Linked DNA regions of Homo sapiens. The protein of the gene in region 3 purifies or fractionates together with the protein of the main gene of each other region. This does not show direct contact. Each region holds a gene or a part of one and is shown on either strand. Other genes may lie near its edges.

Evidence for each region.
Region 1: the proteins of AKIRIN2 (region 3) and IPO9 purify together in Homo sapiens (affinity purification with mass spectrometry; 4 studies listed by BioGRID and IntAct, with this or other methods). This does not show direct contact.
Region 2: the proteins of AKIRIN2 (region 3) and RNF123 purify together in Homo sapiens (co-immunoprecipitation; 3 studies listed by BioGRID and IntAct, with this or other methods). This does not show direct contact.
Region 4: the proteins of AKIRIN2 (region 3) and PSMB2 purify together in Homo sapiens (affinity purification with mass spectrometry; 3 studies listed by BioGRID and IntAct, with this or other methods). This does not show direct contact.

Annotation. Positions count from the first base shown.
Region 1 is NC_000001.11:201,881,143-201,884,811, forward strand, and holds the end of IPO9 (importin-9), read left to right. Parts: 3' UTR 1-3,149; downstream 3,150-3,669. UniProt on the Homo sapiens protein: Nuclear transport receptor that mediates nuclear import of proteins, such as histones, proteasome and actin. Serves as receptor for nuclear localization signals (NLS) in cargo substrates.
Region 2 is NC_000003.12:49,713,557-49,720,590, forward strand, and holds part of RNF123 (E3 ubiquitin-protein ligase RNF123), read left to right. Parts: coding exon 1-31; intron 32-181; coding exon 182-269; intron 270-353; coding exon 354-441; intron 442-533; coding exon 534-618; intron 619-2,018; coding exon 2,019-2,158; intron 2,159-2,265; coding exon 2,266-2,454; intron 2,455-2,545; coding exon 2,546-2,621; intron 2,622-2,836; coding exon 2,837-2,921; intron 2,922-3,272; exon of another isoform or gene 3,273-4,394; coding exon of another isoform or gene 4,395-5,909; exon of another isoform or gene 5,910-6,128; intron 6,129-6,359; exon of another isoform or gene 6,360-6,954; coding exon 6,955-7,034. Other genes in the region: AMIGO3 (amphoterin-induced protein 3 precursor), read right to left, coding at 4,395-5,909. UniProt on the Homo sapiens protein: Catalytic subunit of the KPC complex that acts as E3 ubiquitin-protein ligase. Promotes the ubiquitination and proteasome-mediated degradation of CDKN1B which is the cyclin-dependent kinase inhibitor at the G0-G1 transition of the cell cycle.
Region 3 is NC_000006.12:87,699,202-87,706,348, reverse strand, and holds the start of AKIRIN2 (akirin-2), read left to right. Parts: upstream 1-4,115; 5' UTR 4,116-4,664; coding exon 4,665-4,899; intron 4,900-7,147. UniProt on the Homo sapiens protein: Molecular adapter that acts as a bridge between a variety of multiprotein complexes, and which is involved in embryonic development, immunity, myogenesis and brain development.
Region 4 is NC_000001.11:35,638,525-35,645,527, reverse strand, and holds the start of PSMB2 (proteasome subunit beta type-2), read left to right. Parts: upstream 1-4,001; 5' UTR 4,002-4,095; coding exon 4,096-4,186; intron 4,187-7,003. UniProt on the Homo sapiens protein: Non-catalytic component of the 20S core proteasome complex involved in the proteolytic degradation of most intracellular proteins. This complex plays numerous essential roles within the cell by associating with different regulatory particles.

The DNA.
Region 1 (3,669 bases), on a different chromosome or scaffold from region 3:
CTGGGGGAGGAAGTCGGGTAAGTTGCATGGAGAAGGCAACCCTTGAACACTTGCAAGGAGCTAACAATACCTGCTTCTGGAGTATTTAAACGCCAGTGGGTATGCTAAATACTTTTACCTCAGACCACCTACTAACCTTACAAAGTAGTCCACTTTGCTCACCCAGTTTTACAGATTGATGAAACTGAAGCAGACAGATATTGTTAACCTATCAAAGGTCACCCTGCAAGTGTGTGATTATAGTCCAAGCAGCTTGTACTTGTTGCCTATTTGTTTTGCCTTTCCTGTGCATTTGCCAGGCAGATGAGAGTGGGGTAAGACATTGCAGAGAAAAAGTAAGAAAAGGCCGTCATGAAACAATTTCATTTTCAGACCTTATAAGCACGTTACAAGTACTGATATTTATGCTTAAGTTCACGGGAGTCCTGGCCAGAAATAAAGCTGGAAGGACAAGTGGGGGGCAGATTGTGAAGGATCCTTCAAGACCTGCTTCCTCTAGAGAATGGGAGACTACCCAAGATAACTAAACAGGGAAGTGATCAGGTTTTGTGTCTTAGAAAAGTGTTGCAGTGTTGATGCAAATGTGACTAGAAGGGTGACTTGGAACCTGGATTGAAGGGGTGGGAGATGGGAGAAAGGAATGCAGTCTGGCAGCAGCTACAGCAGTCCAGGTGGGAAAACCCAGAGCCTGAACTAAGGTTGTAACTAGAGGGGATAGGGTGGAAGAGCTGGATTAGAGATGTTGACAAGATAAAGTCAGTAGGACTTAAAGACTGACAAGTAAGGATTTTCCAAAAGTGAGAGCTGTGGAATGAATTGTCTTAAAATGTTGCAGTGAGTTCCTCCTCATCAATCCAAGTGCTCGATCAGAGGCTAGACCTTTAGTTAGCAGTCACGGGAAAATTCCCCATTCTCACGGGGATTTAGACTAGGTCTTAACCATACTTTACCAAGATTCCAGTAGCAAAGCACCCAAAAGTAATCGCAATAAAATTCCAATTTTTGTAGGCCGGGCATAGTGGCTCACACCTGTAATCCCAGCACTTTGGGAGGCCGAGGCAGGCGGACCACGACATCAAGAGTTCAAGAGCAGCCTGGCCAGCATGGTGAAACCCCGTCTCTACTAAAAATACAAAAAAATTAGCTGGGCATGGTGGCGCATGCCTATAATCCTAGCTACTCAGGCAGCTGAAGCAGGAGAATTGCTTGAACCCGGGAGGCAGAGGTTGCAGTGAGCCAAGATCATGCCACTACACTCCAGCCTGGGCGACAGAGCGACACTCTGCCTCAAAAAAAAAAAAAAACAAAAAAAAAAACAAGTTTTGTGAATTTAAGTTTCCCTAATGGATGGTACAGGTCAACATTTGCCATCTAATGACACTTACATTCCAGTTTTTTCCTTTTTTGAGTAACTGGGAAAAGGGTGGCATTACTGCTGGCTTCCTAAAATTGAAAAGTATACTAGGGTTTTTAAACCTGTGTAGAATACATGATATGGTAGCAAATGTGCTGTAGGAAGAAAAGCAATGAGGAACTACTGGCCTGACTAGGAGGCCTAGAAGTCCCTCCCAGGCTTGAGTTGTTCTGACTTGGCATGATTACATAGCTGCGGCAAGTGACGTTTCCTTCAAGCCTTGGTTCCCTCATCTGTAAAATAGGGAACTAATACCTACCTCACAGGATTGTAGTTAGAATTAAGGATGACTTCATTAAAGCACCTCTAGTGGTGGAAGATGTCCCATCCTATCCCCCACCCATAGCTGGGAGCTATGTTTGGCTCATTCTTCCTGACTCACTGGATTACACTGTGACTCAGTTCAATTTCACACATGCTGCTGCTAAATTAGGGTCTTGGTGAGCCTTTGGGAGGACAGCTCTGAGGAATGAATTGTAGCACTGCAGCCCTGCCTGAGGAACATGATAGAAACAGGTGGTAGGCCCAGCTCTTGCCTTCCACCTACTAAGCAGTTTTTCTGTGGTTAGCTGTGTGACATAAACTATCGGTGTATTAATTTGCTTTCACTAGATTCCCCCCCCCCCAACAACTTAGTCCAAGAACATACCTGAATTCTTTGCATTTCCTTGCCTTAGTTGCTTTTGTAGGGTGGACAGCAGGACTGCATGAGAATAGCTGTGCTTCTGGACCCTATGGTGAAAGCTCTAGTGAACTGCAATTAGGCCCAGGGTCCCGGAGGAAGAAGGGGAGAGAAAAAGGGGGGTAGTTTTCCAAAAGATAAGTAGGGGACAAAAAAGTCCACGGGGCCTATGAGCGGTGAGACTCCTGCCCTGATTGTGGCAAAGCACCTGGAGATGATAGAACTTCCTAGGGAAAAGGCTGCATGGAGTCCCCAGGGATGCTGGGCCCTGGTCACCAAGGCTCCCTGGGAAGGTCTCTTGTACCTGGGGCACACAGACCAACACTTCTGAATTTGCAAGCTTAAGAGCATGTATGAGCAGAACCTGTGCAGACCAAGGCTTAGAGGGCTCACCTCAATGTTTTGCACTGTGTGAGACCCCAGGACCTTTTCGTGATTCTGGAGAGGGGAACAAACCATAATAACAACAAACCAGGTAGCAGGATAGAGACTCATTCTCATCTATTTTGGTTAAAAGAAAATAAATGTATTTCTTCCACACCTGATTTTGTGATTGCAAATTCATAACTAATATCCCTCGTCAGCTCCGCTGACTCATCCCTGCCACAGGGAGGTTCACAGCAAGAGCACAGAAACTAGGGCCAGTGCCCGGTTGTGTGACCTTGAGTAAGTTCTTTTTCCCTTGAACAGGGAGAGAGACACAATGGATCAGAGTGTCTCTGCCAGTTCTAACTTGGGGATTCTAGTGGGTTGAACCGAACGGTAGTCCGTTTCCAAAAGAGGAAGCCAAGACCAGAGGGGGAGTGGTTCCTTCAAGTTTGCAGAACCAGTAAGTGGCAGAGCAGGACTCATATCTAGTTAGTGGTTCAGAGCATGGGCTCCGGAGCTAGACTGCCTGGATTTGAACCCTGGCTTTGCCACTTGCCTGTTGGGTGACTTTGGACAAGCTGCTTAAATTATGTCTCCATTTCCTAATCCACAGAACAAGTGTAATACTAGTTATCTGTTTCATGGAGTGATTGTGAGGATTAAATAAAGTTAATATAACACAAAGCACTTCGTAGTGCTGCCTCATAGTAAGTGTTAATGTTACCTATTATTAGTCTGATCCCAAGTCTAATGCAGTTGTCACCACCTAAACCTGCCTTTACAGAGCTGGCCTTTCTGAGAAACCCTGTGCCTCTGTAGATTCAACACTCCCATCTGTGCAGATGGCTAACAGCTAGGCTGAAAACAGAAACCTTAGGTTGGAAAGGGTCAGCTGGAGGGCTGAGGCCCATGGCCCCAAATCCTCCCCAGGAGAGAGAGTAGGTTCAGAAAGGAGAGAGCTATAAACAGAGCCTTCCTCCCTTGCCCTCAGATCCCAAAATAACACTTGTCTACCGCCATCCTGCCCAACTGGCAGAGTGGCAGGCTGAGTAAGGTGCCATTTAAAGATAACCTGGCCCTCACCATCTGCCCCACTGGCTGGGCTGGGCTCCTGAGGCCAGGCCTTGGCTGCCTGGGACTGCTGCTGCTCCCACAGCCACCCAGAGTGTGCCTGAGTAGGGGGCTGCTCACAGCTGCCATCCAA
Region 2 (7,034 bases), on a different chromosome or scaffold from region 3:
CACTTTGCCGACGCACGCATTGTGGGCACTGGTGAGGGGCCCCTACAGAGGGTACAGGGGGAGGGGGATGGGATGGCACCTCTGGTCGGCTTTCTTCTATGAAAAATGTGGCCAGGTGGGCATGAAGTATGGGTCCAGGGCTCATGCCAAGCCCCTGCTGAGGCACGGTGTGTCCCCGCAGACATCCGAGACTCACTGATGCAGGCCCTGGCCAGCTACGTGTGCTACCCACACTCCCTGCGGGCTGTGGAGCGAATCCCCGAGGAGCAGTGAGTGGGGCCTGGGGGGCACACACCCTGGCCACAAGCACCATGCCCAGCCTCACCCCGTCTCTCCCCTCCTTGCCCTCACAGGCGTATCGCCATGGTGAGGAACCTCCTGGCGCCCTATGAGCAGCGGCCCTGGGCCCAGACCAACTGGATCCTGGTGCGGCTCTGGAGGGTAAGCCTGACTCGAGGGGAAGTGGCTGAGGCTGGCTGGAGGGAGAGGGTGCGCTGTCCCATTGACCTGGGCACTGACCCCCACCTCCACAGGGCTGTGGCTTCGGGTACCGCTATACACGGCTGCCACATCTGCTGAAAACCAAACTTGAGGACGCCAATTTGCCCAGCCTCCAGAGTGAGTATCTGGGTTGGGCGAGTCCTGGGCAAGGCAGGCGGGGGCGCTTACCTCCTACCCATGGGTTCTTTCAGACTCTCCACTTCTTCCAGCCCCTCTCTGGTTCCCCCATTGGGTCCCAGACTCCCTACGTGTCCCCTGGGGTTTCCACTTTCCCTGCTTCCTTCCAGCCCAAGGATACTCGGGATGGGACTCCCCCTCCCCAGCCTTGCCCACAGTCTTACCTACATGTGCCCTTTGGGCCTGGATGCTCTATGTGGGTCATGGTGAGAGGCGGCACCATGTTCCTGGCCTGCTACAGCTCATGCAGACTGAATACTCTGTCCCTTGCCCTTTAAGCTAGCTCCCTGACCTCCAGCCTTGTCCCAGCACCATGTCCTTCTGCTTCTTTTTTGCTATCTGCTGGTGGCAGACCCTGGCCTTGGCTTAGGCCTTGGACACCTGAGTCCACTGGGAGCACAGATTGGAGGTTGGCCAGGTCCCCAGAGGGTATTCACGAGAGTTCCTGGAGGAAGGGACATTTAGTTGGGAGCAGAGGCTGTGCCCTCTCTCCAGGGTCCAGCAAGGACTTTCCCCTAGGCCTGGCCCTTGCAGAGTGCCAGGTGTGCCACACACTGTCCTCACCCTTCATGGTGGCTCTTCTTGGCTCATGTAGTCTGTTTCTGCCCTTGTGGGCAGTGTTTTGGTCCAAAGGGTGTCCCCAGAGAGGCTGAGTGTCTTCTGCTAAGTCACACAGCAAGTCCTTGCCAATTGCCGTGGTCCTGCGTCCAGGGCGGAACTGAGCTGCAAGTGGAGAGCGGCAGTGGGGCCAGGCCTGTCCTGCTGCTGCGGGAACTATTGATTTGTATCAAGCTGGTGGGGAGGTGCGCCAGGCCCGTTGCAGCTGAGGGCTCCGGTTACTGCTGCCTGCCAGCCCAGACTTGGTGCCCACCACCTCGGCCATATGCCAAGGCCAGGCCAAGGGCAGCAGAGGACAGTAGAGGACAGCAGGTTTGCAGCAGGGCTTAGAGTAGGCTCTTGGAGGAGCTGGCCTTGGTGCCGGTGGGGAAGCATCTAAGCCGCCCTGTTTAGGTCTGACCCTATCTGAAGGGTGTGCGACCCAGAACTTGCTGAGGGTCAGGCTGTGGCTGTGTGGCTGCTCTGGACCTGGAGTGGATGGTGTGGTGTCAGGGCTGGACACAGCTGCAGCCTGGGGCTTGCCTAGTAGAAGGAGGGGACAGATTCTGTCCCAACTAACTCCAAGGCAGCTGTCCTCTGTCCCCTGCTTTCATGACCTGAGCATTCCTAGGGAGCCATCTTTCTGTCCTTATACCAAAGCCTCAATGGGCGAGGACAGAGGCAAACAGGCAGAGGCCACTGCAGTGGAGTCCCTGATGATGCCGCCTCCTGTCCCCCTGCAGAGCCCTGCCCTTCCACCCTGCTGCAGCAGCACATGGCGGACCTCCTACAGCAGGGTCCTGATGTGGCACCCAGCTTCCTCAACAGCGTCCTCAATCAGCTCAACTGGGCCTTCTCTGAATTCATTGGCATGATCCAAGAGGTGGGCTGTGGTGGGGCCTCGTGGGTTAGGGTGGTGCAAGGGATGAGGCCTGGTCCTGGGCTAGAGCCAGGTGCTGACCACTGCATGCCCACGTGTTGGTGGCTCAGATCCAGCAGGCTGCTGAGCGCCTGGAGCGGAACTTTGTGGACAGCCGGCAGCTCAAGGTATGTGCCACCTGCTTTGACCTCTCGGTCAGCCTGCTGCGTGTCTTGGAGATGACTATCACACTGGTGCCTGAGATATTCCTTGACTGGACCCGGCCTACCTCTGAGATGCTGCTGCGGCGTCTTGCACAGGTGTGGCCATCTGGGCAACAAGGGTGGGACCCTGGGGATGCCCCATTGATGACGCTCCCCATCCACCAATGGACTCCTGCTCCCCTCACAGCTGCTAAACCAGGTGCTGAACCGGGTGACAGCTGAGAGGAACCTGTTTGATCGTGTGGTCACCCTACGGCTGCCTGGTGAGGACCTAGATGCCCTGCACCCCAACACACTACAGGCCTCGGTTCCTCTGCTAGGAACAGTGAGGCCTGATTCCACATTCTGCCCCCGGACAGCCAGACTTGGTGCTCTGCAGTCTCGGCTCACCCTTCTGTAGAGAGGGCAGTGGGCAGGCCTGGAGCCCTTGAAGCAGGAGCATGTGGGTGGCTCATCTCTTTCCTCCCCTTCCCCTCAGGCCTAGAGAGCGTGGACCACTATCCCATTCTGGTGGCAGTGACGGGCATCCTGGTGCAGCTCCTGGTGCGTGGCCCAGCCTCAGAGTGAGTGTTGGGGACCGTGGGCCCCTGTGGGAGTTGGGTGTGTCTGGTGAGGAGGGGCTGGACAGGGCCTCCTGGTACTTCAGTTTCCTCATCTGGAAAATGGACCTCAGCATCAGGTTTTGAGGCAGAGGGAAGGTGGTGAGGTGTGAACGGCCTAAATAGGGGGCAGACGGAGCTGCTCTAAGTAGGAGAATCTGGGACCCCAGCAGGACAGGTGGCCCTGGCCCACAGAGCCACTGGCTTGTGGCCATGCCTCAGGCCAGGCATGGGAGGCAGGACTCCGGAGGGTGTGCCGTCCTGTGGTGGACAGGGCCAGGCCGCCAGGAGAGCTGAACACACGGAGGACCGCCATTGTCTGCAAAGGCTCTAGCAATAAGCATGTGCTACCTTTATTAAACTCTGGAGCAGCGAGGTCCAGGATGGCCATGGGGGCCCCCAGCTCGGCCCCCACACATGAAGGGCTCCCAGACCCCCCTTCCCTGCCCCCCTGCAGTGGGAGCAGTGAGATGCATATGAAGCCAGGGTACCGCCTCAGCCATTAGGCTGAGACCAGTGCCAGCCCTTAAGAGGCTCCTGCTCTCGAGGGACGTGGAGTTCCGGCTCGGCCCTCCCAGCTCGGCCATGCTCGCCAGGCTTTTCGGGCTTTTTACTGCTGAAAAGCAGGGGTGCAGGCCATGATCCCCTTCACTGTGTCTTGTGAGCCCACAGAATGGGCTCTGCCTTCAGAACAACGGGTGGATGCCCCAGGCCAGAGAGAGCAGGGCCTCTGGCTGGGGCTTAGGCCAGACCACCAGGAACCTCTTGAGGAGCCTTTCCTGCCTGGTGCCTGCCCACCGGACTCTGCGTGAAGTTGTGAAGCTTTCAGGAGGTTGGGTGTTGGTGGATGGAGGGAGTCCCATTTCACCAGAGGGCGGGCTTGTTTCCTCTTTCTGTCCTGGGGTGTGGGCGAGATCTTCCTTCAGAGCCGCCTTCTTTTCCCTGTGGGCCCACTCCCTCCCACCCCCTTGGGAAGGGGAGGTGGCCCTGCGTCAGCTCTTGAGCACCACTCCTCGAGAGCTGTCTCAGCCCCTGAGGGTGGACGGGAGGCTCTGCTACAGGGGTTCTTCCACAGGCTGTAGAAGAACACAGCCACTTCCACAGCTGTGCTGTGTTGAAAGCCACAGGGGCCTGGGTCTCTCAGCCTCACAGGGCATTTGGGCACTAGGAAGTCCGCGGGAAAGCAGGAACTAGCACACCTTGCAGGGCCTGGGGCCTTTGGGTCCTGTGCAGGGGCAGAGCAGAAGGCAGGTTGGGGACCACAACCCCTGTCTCTACCAGTGAGCGAGAAGGCCCATTGTGTTTCGAGGCCCATACAGGAAGCTGGGGGGCCAGGCACAGTGCTTCCCACCAGTATCTGCCAGTTCTCTGGACCGAAGCAGGGAGCAGGGCGAGCAGCAAGAGGGTGGGGGCCTGGGTGGGGGAGCCCTGGGCAGTCTAGGTTGTCATGGGACCCTCGGAGCCTATGGAGCTGGCGGACTCAGAGCCAGCCTTCAGCTGCAGGCCTCCAGGGTTGTAGAGATCGAATTCCTCAGCTACTGCCAGCTGCACGCGGCCATTGAGGCCCCTCCGGCCTGGCTCCAGAAAGACTACGTGCTTGTGGACGCTGGCCTTGCGGCTGGGTGCGTCTGGCGGTGTGGTGCTGAGTACTGAGGACTGTGCGCTCAGCTCTTGGAGCGGGCTGGGTGTTTGGGGCCAGCGGCGGCAGCGGCAGGCACGGCGGCAGCAGCGGCAGGGTGGGGCGAACAGGTAGAGCAGCACGAGCACAAGGCCCACGGCACAGCCCAGCAGTGTGGTGAAGCCTGTGTTGAAAGCCTCGGGCTCTGGGCGCGGAAAGTGCACGCTCACGTTGTACTCGTGCGTCTGGTTGTGGTGCAGGCGGGGCCCAGTGGCCAGGCACACGAAGAGTCCCGCATGCTGCTCCTGTACGTTGCCTATGGCCAAGCTGCCGTCGGCCAGCACCGCGATGCTGCCATCGCGGGATCCTGGCGCCCTGAGAAGCTCCTGCTGCGGCGAAACCCAGGCAATGCGCATGGCCGGGACGCTGGTGTTGCAGTAAAGCCTCAGGGACCGACCCACCAGCGCGTACAGGTGCTCTTCCGGCCGCTCTAGGCCAAGAGCTGGGGCCGACGAGCAGTTCTCAAAGACGCGGCTGTGCTGGAAGAAGCGCACGCGGGACGCGGGTACCTTGAAGGCCAAGCATACGTACTCGCGCGCAAAGTCGCGCACGGCGCTCAGGCCCCGCTGGTGCCAGCGCTGTAGCAGGTGGTAGAGGCGGCAGTCGCAAGGCAAAGGGTTGTTGTGCAAGTAGAGGCCGTTCTTGAGGAAGGCCGGCAGCGCGGCCAGCTCAGGTACGGAGATGTGTCCCAGCCGGTTGGAGGAGAGGTCCAGAGTAAGCAGGTGGGTGGCGCTCAGACCGTGCAGGTGGTCGAAGGAGAACGAGGCGAGTTCGTTGCAGCCCAGGTAGAGATGGCTGAGCGCGCGCAGGCCGTGGAAGGCATGCTCGTCCAAGTGCACCAAGCGGTTATTGAACAGAAGCAGCTTCTCCAGCGCCCCCAGCCCGTCGAGGTCGTGGCGGCCAAGCGCCCGCAACGTGTTAGATGATAGATCGAGCAGCCTCAGGCCGCTGGCGTTGACGAAGACGCCGCGACCCAGCGCATCTAGTTCGTTGTGGTCTAGGTGCAGGGCGCGCAGCTGGAAGAGGGGCGCCAACCAGCCGGGGCGCAGGCGCTGGAGCGCGTTGTGGCTCAGGTCGAGGTCCGCAGTAGCGGCAGGTAACTCGGCTGGCACGTCCTGCAGCCCTAGGCCAGTGCAGCTTAGCAGGTCGGCAGCGCAGATACATTTGTAGGGGCAGTTGTGGAGCGCACGGGGCGGGAAACCCTCGGAGTCCGGGGTGCCTAACCCAACGCGCAGCATGCAGAGCAGTGTCCCCAGCAGCACCAACCAGGTCATGGCGGCGACCACCAGGGACAGTACAGAGCAGCTCTGTGCAGGTTGCAGTTCCAGGACTCACCCTCTTCTGCTCTAGTGCGACATGGGTGGCACCGGATGGCCCTTGCCGAGGAGGCACGGCGGGTTCTTGCCAGCCGACGGCCCCTACTCTCCGGTTCCCAGGTTGTGAGGCGGTGCGGCACTCTTAGCCGCGCTCCCTTCGGCTTCGCTAGCCCTCTCCAAGCGAGTTCCTGATCGGCTCCTAAATACTCCCCCCAGGGGCGGGGCCCGGGCTCCTATTGGTTCCCGTTTGAGGAGGCGGGGCGGCTACATCCCTTTGTGCCCAATGGCCCCGCATGACCGCCAGATGGGGAGCAAGGCCAACCCCAAAGTCCCCGTCAGCCTTTGGCTGGCAGCTCTCCGCCGCTCGTTTTTCCTCGGGGAGTAAAAGGGGGAGTCTGGAAGAATGTCTCCAAGCTGCTGTTAGTGTTTATTTGAAGTGACTTTGAAGGACTGATAATATTATGGGGCAGGCAGACTCTCACTATCTTAAGGTGGTTCGCCTGAGCCTTCTTAAAGTGGTACCCCAGGCCGGGCGCGGTGGCTCACGCCTGTAATCCCAGCACTTTGGGAAGCCAAGGCAGGTGGATCACCTGAGGTCAGGAATTCGAGACCAGCCTGGCCAACCTGGTGAAACCCTGTCTCTACTAAAAATACAACAATTAGCCGGGCGTGGTGGTGGGCGTCTGCAATTCCAGCTACTCGGGAGGCTAAAGCAGGAGAATCACTTGAACCCGGGAGGTGGAGGTTGCAGTGAGCCGAGATCGTGCCATCGCACTCCAGCCTGGGCAACAGAGCGAGACTCGTCTCAAGAAAAAAAAAAAAAAAACAGGCTGTGTGGCACCTTACTAGAATACAGGACTTGGGGTTTGGGAAGCAGGGAGACGGAAAGGATGCAGGGGGGGTGATCATGTACGAGCCATGGCACTCCTCATTGGCAATCCCAAGAGAGACTTTTAGCCAGGCCCCAAGCCTTCTGACTGCCCTTGCACCCTCCCCTACCTAGGAGAGAGCAAGCCACATCAGTGCTCCTGGCAGATCCCTGCTTCCAGCTACGCTCAATATGCTATCTCCTGGGACAGCCAG
Region 3 (7,147 bases):
CTTTTTCCTCTTTAGTACTTCCTTCCCCCCGTCTCCCATCTTAAGGTCTGCTGTCTTTTTCTTCTTGATCAACAAAATAAATTCATTTTTCAAATATATTGTGGTGGCTTACACTTGTAATCCCAGCACTTTGGGAAGCCGAGGTGGGAGGATGGCTTCAGGCCTGGAGTTCAAGACCAACCTGGGCAATGTACTGAGACCCTGTCTCTACAAAAAATTTAAAAATTAGCTGGGTATGGTAGTGCAAGGTTGTAGTCCTAGCTACTTGGGAGGCTGAGGCAGGAGGATCACTTGAGTCCAGGAGGTCGAGGCAGCAGTGTGCCTTGATTGTGTCACTGCACCCCAGCCTGGGTGACAGACCAAGTCCCTGTCTCTAAAAAATAAAAGTAAAATATACTATGTCATGACTTACGGCTTTTAAGTATTATCTTTATTTTCAAGTTTAGCCTAATAAATACTTTTGTAGGTTTTTTTTTTTCAACAGCTTCCTTCTACTCTAAAAGGGTTGCTATAGTATTTTAGCAGATCTATAAAGGAACAAGGATAATGTGGGCTACTGGGGATAGTGTGATAAAAAATGTTTAAGAAATATTCAGTGGACATTTACTGAAGCGTGCAAGGTATTATACTATTGGTAAGGAGCTAACACAATGACAGGAGAGGCAGATTCATGAACAGAATTTTATTGCAGTGTGGTGAGGATAATGATGAAAATATGCAGATAGGTGTCTCTTTCTCTGTGAGGCTATAAAACTAACTTGGCTTTGAAACACTGCGGAGGGCTTCCTGGAGGAGTTAATGCCTGGCTTGAGTCTTAAAATATAAGTAGTCAGGCAAGAAGTGTGGAGCAGAGAGCCTAAGCAAAGACATAGGTGAATAGGGAAGGGTCTCCCTTGTCTTTTTAGTTTCTGAAGTAGCTTCCTGAGTCATTGGTAGAAGGGGAGGCACCCCAGCCCTGTCACTGTTTAATCTTGACAGCCTTTTGCAAATATACTGTGCAGCGGTGACCACACAGGCAACTATTATGACTAAACTATCAAGTTTACCAGATATCCCCCACCACCTTTAAGTACAACAACACTTTGCTGACTGGGTGCAGTGGCTCGGCCTGTAATGCTAGTCTGTAATGCTAGCCTGTAATGCTAGTGGGAGGATCACTTGAGGCCAGGAGTTTGAGACCATCCTCGGCAACTTAGACCTCTGTCTCCACAATTAAACAAAAAAATACTTTCCTCATTTTCTAGGCATTCTGGTATATTTCAAATGATAGCCTGATAACCACAATCCTCTCTGTATTAGTTTCTTACAGTTGCCATAACAAAGTACCACAAACTGGATGGCTTAACCTACAGAAATTTATTGTCTCATGGTCTAGAGAATACAACTCTGAGAAGGTGTTTTCAGGGTTGGTTCCTTCTGAGGACTGAGGGAGAACAACTTCTCTCCTAGCTTCTGGTGTTTTGCTGGCAATCTTTGGCATTCCTTGGCTTGTAGAAGCATCACCCTAATCTCTATTTTCATGTTCATGTTCATGTGGGTCAAAATTCCCTTGGGCCCATGCCTGGGTTCAAATTCCCACCCCCACCCAGTCTCCCCTTCACCCTGGCCTTTTTTTCTTTTCTTTTTTTTTTTTTTTTTTTTGAGACAGGGTCTGGCTATGACACCCTGGCCGGAGTGTGGTGGTGTGATTACAGCTTACTGCAGCCTCAACCTTCTGGGCTCATGCAATCCTCTCACCTCAGCTGCCCCGAGTAGCTGGGACCACAGGTGACCACCACCATGCCTAGTTAATTTTTTAAAAATTTTTGTAGAGATGAGGTTTCTTATCATTGCCCAGGCTAGCCTCAAACTCCTGGCCTCAAGTGATCCTCCCACCTCGGCCTTCCAAAGTGCTGGGATTACAGGTGTGAGCCACCGCACCTGGCCCAAATTTCCTTTTTTGTATAAGAATACCAGTCATATTGGATTAGGGGCCCATCCTACTACATTTAGCTAATTACATTTGAAATAATCCTATTCCTAAGTAAAGTCATATTCTAAGGTACTGGAGGTTAGGACTTCATATGAATTTTGAAGTCCTTGAATTCCCTCAAACATAGGGAATTTAACTCACAACATCACATTTCAAATGTAGGTTTTATAACTTATGGGCAAATCTTAATTTCAGAAAATATTACCAAGTGTTTAGAATTTACTAGAAATTTACCTAGTAGGTGTCTTAGTTAAGCTGCTGTTTCATTAAATGCTTATCTTTTTCAAAAGATTTTCCAAATGTAGGAAATGTAGGATATTTCCAAATATCCTAAATTAAAACTAGAAGGGCTTACTTGTTGACACAGTGTGATCAGGACTGCTGATCTCTGAAGCACTGGACAATTCTATAAAATTGTCTATAAAAAAGAATATATTGAACTACTTCTAAATATGGTTTAAAAATAATAGACAAAATGGCTATAAAACATCTGTTACTGAATAAAGAAGAATACATGAGCACTGGAAATCAGTATTTATAATCATTTGACAGTTGGCATTCACAAAATTGTTTCATATTGCACTGGTGATAGTTTCTACATATATCACTTTTTTTTTTTTTTTTTTTTTTTGAGACGAAGTCTAGCTCTGTCACCCAGGCTGGAGTGCAGTAGCTTGATCTTGGCTCACTGCAACCTCCGCCTCCCGGGTTCAAGCGATTCTTCTGCCTCAGCCTCCTGAGTAGCTGGGACTATAGGTGTGCGCCACCACGCCCGGCTAATTTTTTTTATTTTTAGTAGAGACAGGGTATCACCATGTTGAACAGGCTGGTCTCGAACTCCTGACCTCGTGATCCGCCTGCCTCGGCCTCCCAGTGCTGGGATTACAGGCGTTAGCCACCGCGCCCGGCATCATTTTCTTTTCTTTTCATTTTTTTCAGACAGAGACTCGCTCTATCACCCAGGCTGGAGTGCAGTGGCAACATCTCGGCTCACTGCAACCTTCGCCTCCCGGGTTCAAATGATTCTCCTGTCTTAGCCTCCCGAGTAGCTGCGACTACAGGCGCGCGCCACCACGCTCGGCTAATTTTGTATTTTTAGTAGAGACGGGGTTTCACCATTTTGACCAGGCTGGTCTCGAACTCCTGACCTCAGGAAGATCCGCCTGCCTCGGCCTCCCAAAGTGCTGGGATAACAGGCGTGAGTCACCATGCCCGGCTACACAGATCACTTTCTAAATTAGCGCTGTATTTGATTCTTATTTTAGGTATGTGACTAAAAGTACAACTTCTAGAAACACTTTTTTCCCCTTCCGCTTACAAAATGGATCCATCCAATATCTATTACCTAAACATTTCACTGTCTTTTGATTAGTTTTGTAACAAAGTTCACAATATATGCACCAATATTCAACAGAAGTAATGCAATGTCTGATACCACTTGCTTTTTACCCAACGCAAAACAATTTGATTCTGTAAGTCGTTCAAGTCCTATTCATTTACAGAAGCAAAGCTGGCTTTACAGAATTTCATTAGTGGATGAAGCAGCTACCTCCGAAGGGTAGAGCATCGAGTTGAATCAAGGATCCTGTAACCTGATACTATTACTGTTGTTCTGTCTGCCAGTCCTAAATAGGTTTCATAATCTCATTATCTCCTATCCTCTCCATGTGAAAGGTCTTGTTTTGGGTACTGTCGCTACCGAAATTAAGCTAACTTTGACTAGAGATTGGTTTATTATATTTCCCAGATCTGAAATCACTGTGGGAGCAACTATACGGAGAATCTTAAAAGATTTCTATGTCGCTTAGCCTGCTTTTGCCACGGGTTCGCTTTCCCATCTCCCACTGTCTCAGAACCTTCTCTTTTTTTCTCTTTTGCTTAGTTCCTCTTACACTCAAGCTGTGTAGGGGGATTTAAATTCCAACCCGGAACTCGGAATCGCGCGCCTTGCATGACGGAAGTCGTAGTTTCTGTGACTCCTCCCTTCCCGCCTTTCAAGCCGATTCCTCCCGGTACCTAAAAACTACAACTCCCAAAATGCATCCCCGGTTTGGCCCGCCCCCGTGCGCAAGCGCTCTGAGGCCGCCGGATTTGAATCGGCGGCGTTGTTATTGACGCCATATTGGGGCCGGCGGCGGGTGGGAGAGTTCTACGAGGGAGGGGAAGCGGTTGGACGTGTTCGCTTGGGTTCCTGCTGCGGCAGCTACCTCGCAATCTCTCTGCATCGATCGCCGCTCGCAAGCTACTGACCGTACTCGGGCGTATTAGGAGCCGCGTTCCAGCCTCACACCCCACGGTGCTGTTTTCGACTTCAGAAAGGATCTAGTCTCAGCACAGAAGCGCCTCAGGCGCGGCGCAAAGCTCGAGCGGACGGCGGGGGCGGCCGGAGCCTCTCTCGGGGGAGCCGCGCCTGAGGAGGCGGAAGAACCCCCCTGACGCGACTGGCGTGTGCTTCTGCCCGCCACCGCCCCTCCCGCTCTCACCCGGGCCGTCCCTGGCCACTGCCCCTGCCGCGGAGGCAGCGGCGGCAGCGGCTCTCCTTTCCACAGCCGGCGCTCCGCGACCCGCTTGGCTCCTGAGCCCGTCGGGTAGGCTCTCCTCGAGTTCCCGCTCTTCACCCCTTCCCTCACCCTCTTCTTTCGTCACCCGTCCCCGACCCCACCCGAGCCCGGCGCCTCAGCTGCCCCCGGCCATGGCGTGCGGAGCCACTCTGAAAAGGACTCTGGATTTCGACCCGCTGTTGAGCCCGGCGTCCCCGAAGCGCAGGCGATGTGCGCCATTGTCGGCGCCCACCTCGGCCGCTGCCTCCCCGTTGTCGGCGGCCGCGGCCACCGCCGCCTCCTTCTCCGCTGCGGCCGCCTCGCCGCAGAAGTATCTCCGAATGGAGCCATCCCCCTTCGGCGACGTCTCCTCCCGCCTCACCACAGGTGGGACCCGGCCCCGCGGCCGCCGGGGTAGTGGAGAGAACTGGGAACAGGGGTCCTGGGGTGTGGGATGCGGCCCCTGGGGTGGGGGTGCCGGACTGTGTGGTTCTTGTTCTTAGCAAAGTAGTAGGGCAGCCACGTTTTTCACTAGGTCCTCGTAGCCCGAGGACCTAATAAGACACAATAGAAATGGGCTGATGTCAAGGGGATAGTGTTTGGAGGTGGGTAGGGGCTTTGCCTTGCCCGTATTGGGTAGAACAGGGACATCTTTTTCTTTGGGCCGAATGATTGGAATTGTTTCCGTAGTCGCTGGAGCCCCAGCGGAAATGATCAGAGAGGACGATATTATTCGTAAATTTAGGCGAAAGGGTCACATTTCACCCCAATCTGGATGTGTGCTTGCCGTAATCGATTGGTTGCAGCTATTAACTCTGGGACTGGGTGGTTTGAGGCGAGGCTACAGCCCCTCCTTCAGTTCAGACACGGCTGATTTTAGTATAGTGGGGGTGGGGGGTGGGGGATGGATGTCACTAGGGCGAGATCTAGGCCTGTCATTAATCACCCACAAGAACGCCACTTTGGCTGAGTCAAGACCTGTTTCCCTAGCAGGGTCAACAACAAAGAAAATGCTCTTCCCGAGTACTGTAATATGATCACACTATAAGTCTAGACCTTGAGAAATGTTGAACTTTTAATAAGCATATTGCATTGAAAATTGGGGCTGAGGAGTTGCTTTTATTTGGAAATGTTTTATTTTTGCCCAACAAAGTATGCTGGGGGAAAACAACCTAGCCTTGAGAATAATGAAGAAATCAACCCAAGATTCCAAGGGACTTCAGACTTTTGCTTTTCATCTTGAAACATTTCCTGAGAGAGACTGGGGAATGTCTTTTGGCTGCTTTGTAGGGCATGTGTATGCCCAGTTTTTTCTGTACTTTGAAATCCTTGTGTGCCCCTGGCACAATCCTAGGATAGGCTTTTGTGGACTAGAAGTGTAAATGTTTCCTTTGTGTGTAGCATGCAAAGATTTCTGTGTGAGCCTTTAGTAATAATATCACCCTTTAGACAAAGCCTTTCCATAGCTTGATTTAAATGTCTCGTTATCAGTAGCTTAAAAAACCGAAGTATATACCTCTGTATTTGGTGACTTCCATTTGAAACTGACTTTAGTGTTTTTTTTTTTTTGTCACATTTAAAAATATTTTCTAAATCCATGGAGTGACCCTCGAATATGCAAGCTACCATTTTTGCTATTAAATATTTGGTCTAATTTAAGGACATACTGTTTTAGAGTTGTAGTGAGTTTTTACGGAAATTCTTAGATAAATTTATTTAATGACCTTACTAAACTGTGTTTTAATTAGATTGAAAAGGCATTTGTTGATTAATTGTTAGGCTTTACTTTGGGAAAAAAAAAAGGAAACAGCCAATGTCAAGAATGAGCTACTGGTGGTTGACATTTTTGGAATTTGTCTTTTAGTGAAATGGTATCATTGGAAATTGAAATGGATTCTGTACTTAACTAATAAAGCCATTTCAAAATAAGGTCATTAAGGAGCTAACCAGCAATACATTTCAGTCGAGGGAGTGAATTAATACAGTGCTAGGTTTGGGAATTAAAGTACTATATCTCAATGTCAAAATAATCTTGGGCATGTATGTGAACAATTGGGGACTATACCATGTTCCTCCCCTTTAAAGCACACTTATTCAGAATTGTGATCCTTTGTAAACGACTTTTCATTGGCATATCTGTAGCGTTGGTTAATACAGTTGGCTCCACATTATCTCAAGTTTAAATTAATTGGACTGTTGTAGTAAAACGACTGGAATTATTGGAATTGTTTAAGCCAGCTGATTGAGATTCACATTCACTTTCCAAAATACTGCTATTTTCTTCAAGGTGTTTTTTTTTTGACATCTACTTTGGAAGTTTGATTATATCCTGAAACCTAAAATCACATCCTTATTGATTCTGAGTCTGCTAAAAGTTATTTCCAAACTAATTTGAATATTATCGCAAAAAGTTTACTTGAGAAAACAAGTTGAAATTGAAATTTTGACTTGCTAAAATTACATTTTTTAAACGGTAGTTTTGAATGACATTCTAAATGTAATTTAGTTTGACTTTGTGTTTATATGGCCAATTTGGGGTATGGTCCTGTATGTTTTTTGTAATGTCATAATGGGAGCTGCAGTGTTGTGCAGGTATCAAAGAGCTTCCCAGTTTTCATGTTAGTAAACTTGGAAA
Region 4 (7,003 bases), on a different chromosome or scaffold from region 3:
ACTCATGGAACCAAACAGACCTGCGTCTTTGTCCCATCTCAAGGGAAACACAAAGCAAACCTCTCTTCTGAATGCCTCTTTTATAAATAAGAAAATTGAGGCTCGGGAAGGCTAAACGAATTTTGCAACAAGGCTGAAAAAGGTAAAGCTGGGACCACACTTGGGTGTTGACTTACAGGCCTTCCACTATATCAGGGAGGCAGACTATAGTCCATGAGCCAAGCCCACCTTCCCCCTTCCCCTACCTGTTTTTTAAGCAAAGTTTTATTGGAACACAGCCATGCTCTCTTGTTTATGTATTGTCTATGGCTGCTTTCTCACTGTAATGGCAGTTGTTAGTTGTTAGTAGTTGTTACAGAGAAAGTATGACCTGCAAAGCCAAAAATATTTACTATCTGTAAATATTTTGGCTACATTATGCTACTTCTGTGAACCTCCACAGACTTCTAATTCTAAGACTCAGTTATTCTAAGACTTTAGTTGGAGGAGAGTGACACAGCACAAGCTAGGTCTTGAAAACCTACTTTCTTCTATACTAACAAGAAATGAGGGCAGCTCTAGTGCTACTTAGCTAAAGCAGATTTCAAAAAGTCCTAGGGAGAGCTGGGTGTGGTGTCATGTGACTGTAGTGCAGCTACTTGGGAGGCTGAGGCAGGAGGATCACTTGAACCCAGGATTTTGTCTCAAAAAAATAAAAATAAAAATAAAAAAGCCTGGAAAGAAAGAAGGATGAATCAGCTTAAAAGATAGTCCTTAAAAATAATAATAAAAATACTGTGGATCTTCCAATTCAGAAATCTGCAGCGTTTGTGAATGAATGAATATTGGTATGTACAAAGGAAAAGTCTGGAAGGATACAGACATTCAGTGGGTGGTTACCTTTGGCGGAAGGAAAGGTATTTAACTCTTTGTTTCTTCTATATTGTTTGTGTATGTGTGTATATATAGTATAACTATGTACTTTTTGCAATTAAAAAAACACACAAACACACACAATGAGGATGAGAGAGAGAGAGAGAGAGACCTCCCCCCTCCAAGTGGTATTTAAGAAAACAATCTTTCTAGAGTGATGGATGCAGCTGTGTTCATAGTGGATGGTTGACTTAATGACCTCACTTGCCCCTGGCATCCATCCCATGATTGATAGGCTGCCTCAAACTCCTCAGGCTCTGTGTTCCTTTATGTGCAGGGAGCTGGAAGAAACATTCAGAATAAAGTATTACAATTTCTGCAGAGACAAACGAATTGCATAGTTGTGTTTGGAGATACAACTGCAACTCGTTTCCCATTTCTCAATAAGCTAGTATGAAGACTCAGTTGTGGATGTCAGAAACCCAATCAAGAAATATTTCACCTTTTTTTCAGAATTGCTTCAAGATATAAAGGGATGGCTGTTTTTTTTTCTATTAGAAAAAATACAAATAGTACATGAGCACTGTAAAACATTCAAACAATACCCATGTGTATAAAATAAAAAGTGAAAGTTCTCCCTTCAAATTACACTCACCAGGGTAATAAATGCAAATAATTTGACACTAGAATACCTGTAAACAGGTATTTACAGGTATTCCATTCATATTCAAATATTCATAGTTAAACAAAATGGCATCAGGCTACATATAAAAAAGCATTTTTACTTTCACTTAATGTATCTTGGGCCATGGAATATATAGGTATATTTAGATTCATCTCATTCTTTTTATGGGTGCACAATATTCCACTATGACTGTACTACATTTTTTTTTTTTTTGAGACAGAGTTTTGCCCTTGTTGCCCAGGCTGGAGTGCAGTGGCACGATCTCAGCTCACTGTAACCTCTGTCTCCCAGGTTCAAGCGATTCTCCTGCCTCAACCTCTTGAAGTGGCTGGGATTACAGGCGCCTGCCACCTCGCCCGGCTAATTTTTTGTATTTAGTAGAGACCGGGTTTCACCATGTTGGTCAGGCTGGTCTCGAACTCCTCACCTCACGTGATCCACCTACCTTGGCCTTCCAAAGTGATGGGATTACAGGCATGAGCCACCACACCCGGCCCAACAATGTCTCCACTTTTAGACACGTAAGTTGGTCCTCTTTTGTGTTGTAGTGCTGCAACACTAAATATCTCTCTCTCTTTTTTTTTTTTTTTTGAGAGAGAGTCTTGCTCTGTTGCCCAGGCTGGAGTGTAATGGTGTGATCTTGGCTCACTGCAACCTCTGCCTCCCGGGTTCAAGCGATTCTCTTGCCTTGGCCTCCCCAGTAGCTGGGATTACAGGTGCCGCACCACCACGCCCAGCTAATTTTGGTATTTTTAGTAGAGACGGGGTTTCATCATGTTGGCCAGGCTGGTCTCGAACTCCTGAACTCGTGATCCGCTCGTCTTGGCCTCCCAAAGTGCTAGGATTACTGGCGTGAGCCACTGCCCCTGGCAACACTGAGTATCTCGGTACACAAATATTTGGACTGTGTGTCCAAACATTTCTTTTGGACATATTCAAAAGGTTATGCATATTTAACAGATATTAAAATTGTTCTCTATAAAAAGGTTGTACAACTTAGAACCTTACCCCCAATTTATACTTTCTCATTGTTTCTTATTTCCCATTTTCCTAATTACCATCAAGGTTGAGGATCTTTTCATGTTTATTGGCCATTCGTGTTGCTTCTTTTGTGAATTGTTTTTCTTAGTCTTTGGTCTTTTTTTATTTTTTATTTTTTTTTTTGAGATGGAGTCTCTCTGTTGCACAGGCTGGAGTGGAGGGGCGCTATCTCGGCTCACTGCAATCTCCGCCTCCTAGGTTCAAGCAATTCTCCTGCTTCAGCCTCCGGAGTAGTACAGGCGCCTGCCACCACGCCCAACTAATTTTTTGTATTTTTAGTAGGGACGGGGTTTCACCATATTGGCCAGGCTGTTCTCGAACTCCCGACCTCTTGATCCGCCCCCGTGCCCTGCCGGGTCTTTTAAAAATGGTATTGTCTCACCCGGCTCCCCTCCCATTGGTTTGTAGGAATATCTTTTAAGTTATAGATATTAACTTTTTCCTTTCTTCTGTCTATAAGGTCCAAAATAGTAACTATTTCTACAATTGAAACATTCCCAATTTACATTTACTGTTGAGCATGATAATGACTTTCACCACATAGAGACGTGTAATTTTAGGTAGTCAAATCTGTCAAGTCTTTTCTCATATTGCTTCTGGGTTCCCTGTCAAGCTTAGAAACACATCTCTTCCAAAAATTACAGAAATATTTTTCTACTTTTTCTTCCATGTTTGTATCTCTCTCCCTCTCTTTTTTTTTTTTTTTTTTTTTTTTTTTTTTTTTTTTTTTTTTTTGAGACGGAGTTTCGCTTTTGTTGCCCAGGCTGGAGTGCTCACCGCAACCTCCGCCTCCAGGGATCAAGCGATTCTCTGTCTCAGCCTCCAGAGTAGCTGGGATTACAGGCATGCGCCACCACGCCCAGCTAATTTTGTATTTTTAGTAGAGACGGGGTTTCTCCATATTGGTCAGGCTGGTCTCGAACTCCCAAGCTCAGGTGATCCGCCTGCCTTGGCCTCCCAAAGTGCTGGGATTACAGGCGTGAGCCACTGCGCCCGGCCATGCTTATATCTTTAATCCAACCATATACTATTTTTGTGAAGGATGGAAGTAAGGCTCCCCTCAAGTTAATTTTTCTCCAATCTGGCTTGCAGGAAAGGGGTTTCTGGGGAGATTTTACCGAGCAACGTAGGGAAACGGCTGCCTGGCTACCTACCCCTTTTTGACACCCACACGTGCTCGGCACCTTACATACACTGCGTGATTTTATCCTAAAGCCACTTTTAAAATCTTAGTGTGTAAACAGAGAAACTGGGCGTCACATAAGGCAAGTGACCTGCACAGCCTGCTCCGGAGGAGACCCGTACGATCCCAGAGACAAGCACTGAACATAAGGCACCCGGCGCCGCGCCCGCTTTGCAACCTCTCGCGACAGTTGTACGTCATCCGAGAGCGCCGTGGAAGTCGTGCTGCAGGCGTCGCGCCAATCTTCGCTCTGAGGTGCTGTCTCACCGGTGAGACCTGGAAGCGGGCGAGTCTCGTGCTGTGTCGGACCTGCAGCCCCTGGCCTTCCGCCACCATGGAGTACCTCATCGGTATCCAAGGCCCCGACTATGTTCTTGTCGCCTCCGACCGGGTGGCCGCCAGCAATATTGTCCAGATGAAGGACGGTGAGAGGAAGCAGGGGAGGCCCGGCCAGGCCTGGGGTGTAGGAGCGGCCAGAAGGAGTTTGTCGGGGGTTGAATAAGTACCAGGGAGGATCTGAGAGATGGAAGCCGGCCTGCCCTGCCCGTACTTATTTTATTTATTTATTTATTTTTTCGAGAGGGGTTTCGCTCTTGTTGTCCAGGCCGGAGTGCAATGGCGCGATCTCGGCTTAGCACAGTCTTTGTCTCCCGGGTTCAAGCGATTCTCGTGCCTCAGCCTCCCGAGTAGCTGGGAACAGATATGCGCCACCACGCCTGGCTAATTTTTGTATTATTAGTAGAGATGTGGATTTCTCCATATTGGTCAGGCTGGTCTCGAACTCCCGACCTCAGGAGATCCGCCCGTCTCGGCCTTCCAAAGTGCTGGGATTACAGGCGAAACAGGCAGACAGGTCTGGGACCTTGGCATTTGCTCCTCCAGGGCTCCTGGGTCAGTGCTCTGCTCTGGCCTTCGCTAAATGCTTCTTGCTTGGTGAGAGTTGCCTAAAGGGAATCAGTTTATAAATGTTTAAGCGCCTGCCCAGAGCCTGGCTCTCTAGATCCCCGAATCTCTGATAAGTTTCCTGGTGTCGCTAGTAATGAGGTTAGTTTGTTGGCGGCATAAGGTGGGATCCTGAGGAGAGTGAGACTGTGGGACTGGCTCTCTAGATCCCCGAATCTCTGATAAGTTTCCTGGTGTCGCTAGTAATGAGGTTAGTTTGTTGGCGGCATAAGGTGGGATCCTGGGGAGAGTGAGACTGTGGGACCAGAAGCTTGGCATTTTCCTTCTTCCCGTGGCTCCCGATTCTTCTTTTCCAGTTTTCCAGAGCAATGGCTGCCAGGTTTTCCTTATATTTAAGTAGTTAATGGAGTTAAGAGATTGGAGCCCTGTCATTTATTTGCCTTATGAGTTTGTATAAGTTATTTTGCAGTGCCCAGATTTCCTCATCTTTAAGATTAGCAATACCAAACTCACAAACTTGTCGGGAGGATTTAGTAAATGAGTTATGTGCAAATCCTTAGCACTAGGCAGGTACTTAATAATACTAAGTGTACGTAGGTGCCCAAACATATTTGTCAAATGACCATTAAGTCATCTGAACCAAAGCTTAATACTTTTTCAACAGTAGCACGTCTTTGATCAGTTAAGGAAAACAAACTTAGATTCTGCAGAAAAACAACCAAAATCTTCTTAAAATTATGTATTGAGTAATTTAGTATAGATAGTATAGTATAGTATAGTATAGTATAGTATAGTATAGTATATTATAGTACTTAGGGGCAAAATGTCTGGACTCACTGCATAGGTTGAACCCAGGTTCTGCCACTTGTGACCTTAAGCAAATTTCTCTAACTCCGTGCCCTAGAGCTAACATCTATAAGGTGGTAATGTAATAGCACCTATCTCAAAAGGTTAATGAATTAATGTAAATCACTTAACATAGCACCTTATACTTTATGAAATTCTATGATTAGTTTGTAGAAGTTTTGTTTGTAAGCCAGTCCTTCCAAAGGAGTGAATTTGTTTTGAGAGTAAATTTGTCCATTATTTTGAATACTAAGGTCTTTGACAAGCAAGTGATTTTAACATTAAGTCATGTCTAGGTAGAACAATAATCATTATCTTTACAGGTCTTTTGTTTCATCCCAAATGTATGTGAAATCACATTGAAAAGTAGAATGTGCTTTAAGCCTACTTATGTACACAGTACTTTTAGTCATTATAGGGGATGCAGTATATTACTTATAACCCATAGAAGAGTCCAAGACATTAAGAAAACAAGGAAATAAATGCTGCAAGATGATTTTATATAATAAAAGAAGTATTACTAGTTAGTAGTAGGTTGGTTTTTAAATTAATGAGTTCAAGAGCAAATCCTAAGAGTAATAAAAGAAAGATAACTATGGTATGGGAGAAAGATGAATTTGAGTTAGTTCTTGAAAAATAATTGGAAATAGTTGCACTCTGCACATTCCAATTTTCCCTATAGTCTTTTCTGGTATAAAACAAATTATAATAGAAATTTTAGTATTGTATGATGACTTTTTTATTTATTTTATTTATTTATTTTTGAGACAGAGTCTCGCTCTGTCACCCAGGCTGGAGTGCAATGGCGCGATCTCGGCTCACTGCAACCTCCACCTCCTGGGTTCAAGCGATTCTCCTGCCTCGGCCTTCCAAGTAGCTGGGATTACAGGCGCCCGTCACCATGCCCAGCTAATTTTTGTATTTTTAGTAGAAACGGGGTTTCACCAGTTTGGCCAGGCTGGTCTCAAACTCCTGACCTCAGGTGATCCACCTGCCTCCGCCTCCCAAAGTGCTGGGATTACAGGCGTGAGCCACCGTGCCCAGCCGTCTGATGACTTTTTTCTAATCATTCATTTCACGATGGAGCTTGTTTAGAGTAGGCAAGAATGCTGAAAAAATAGTAACCTTCTGGGACTCCTTTCTCCAAGTATAAAATGATAATACAACTTCCAATCAATTGTCCAGTATGTCACTTTGTAAAAACATTTTGATACTATAGAGTAGACATTTGCTGAGGATTGCCACCTTATTAAGTGGTATAACTTTTGGTTTGCTTATATGCCGCATTTCATGTCTCTTTTCTCTTGGCCTATGTAGAATTGCTTTTAAGTTACTCGGAGTACTCCAGCCCACACAGAATTCTCTCTTTTCTGAATTCCTATAGCATGTATAATCCGAACTACATTATCTAACACTGAGTATCATAATATTGGACATGTATAGAATTCATTAGTTTTTCTCACTTGTGAGTTAGACAGGGGTAAGTCATATTA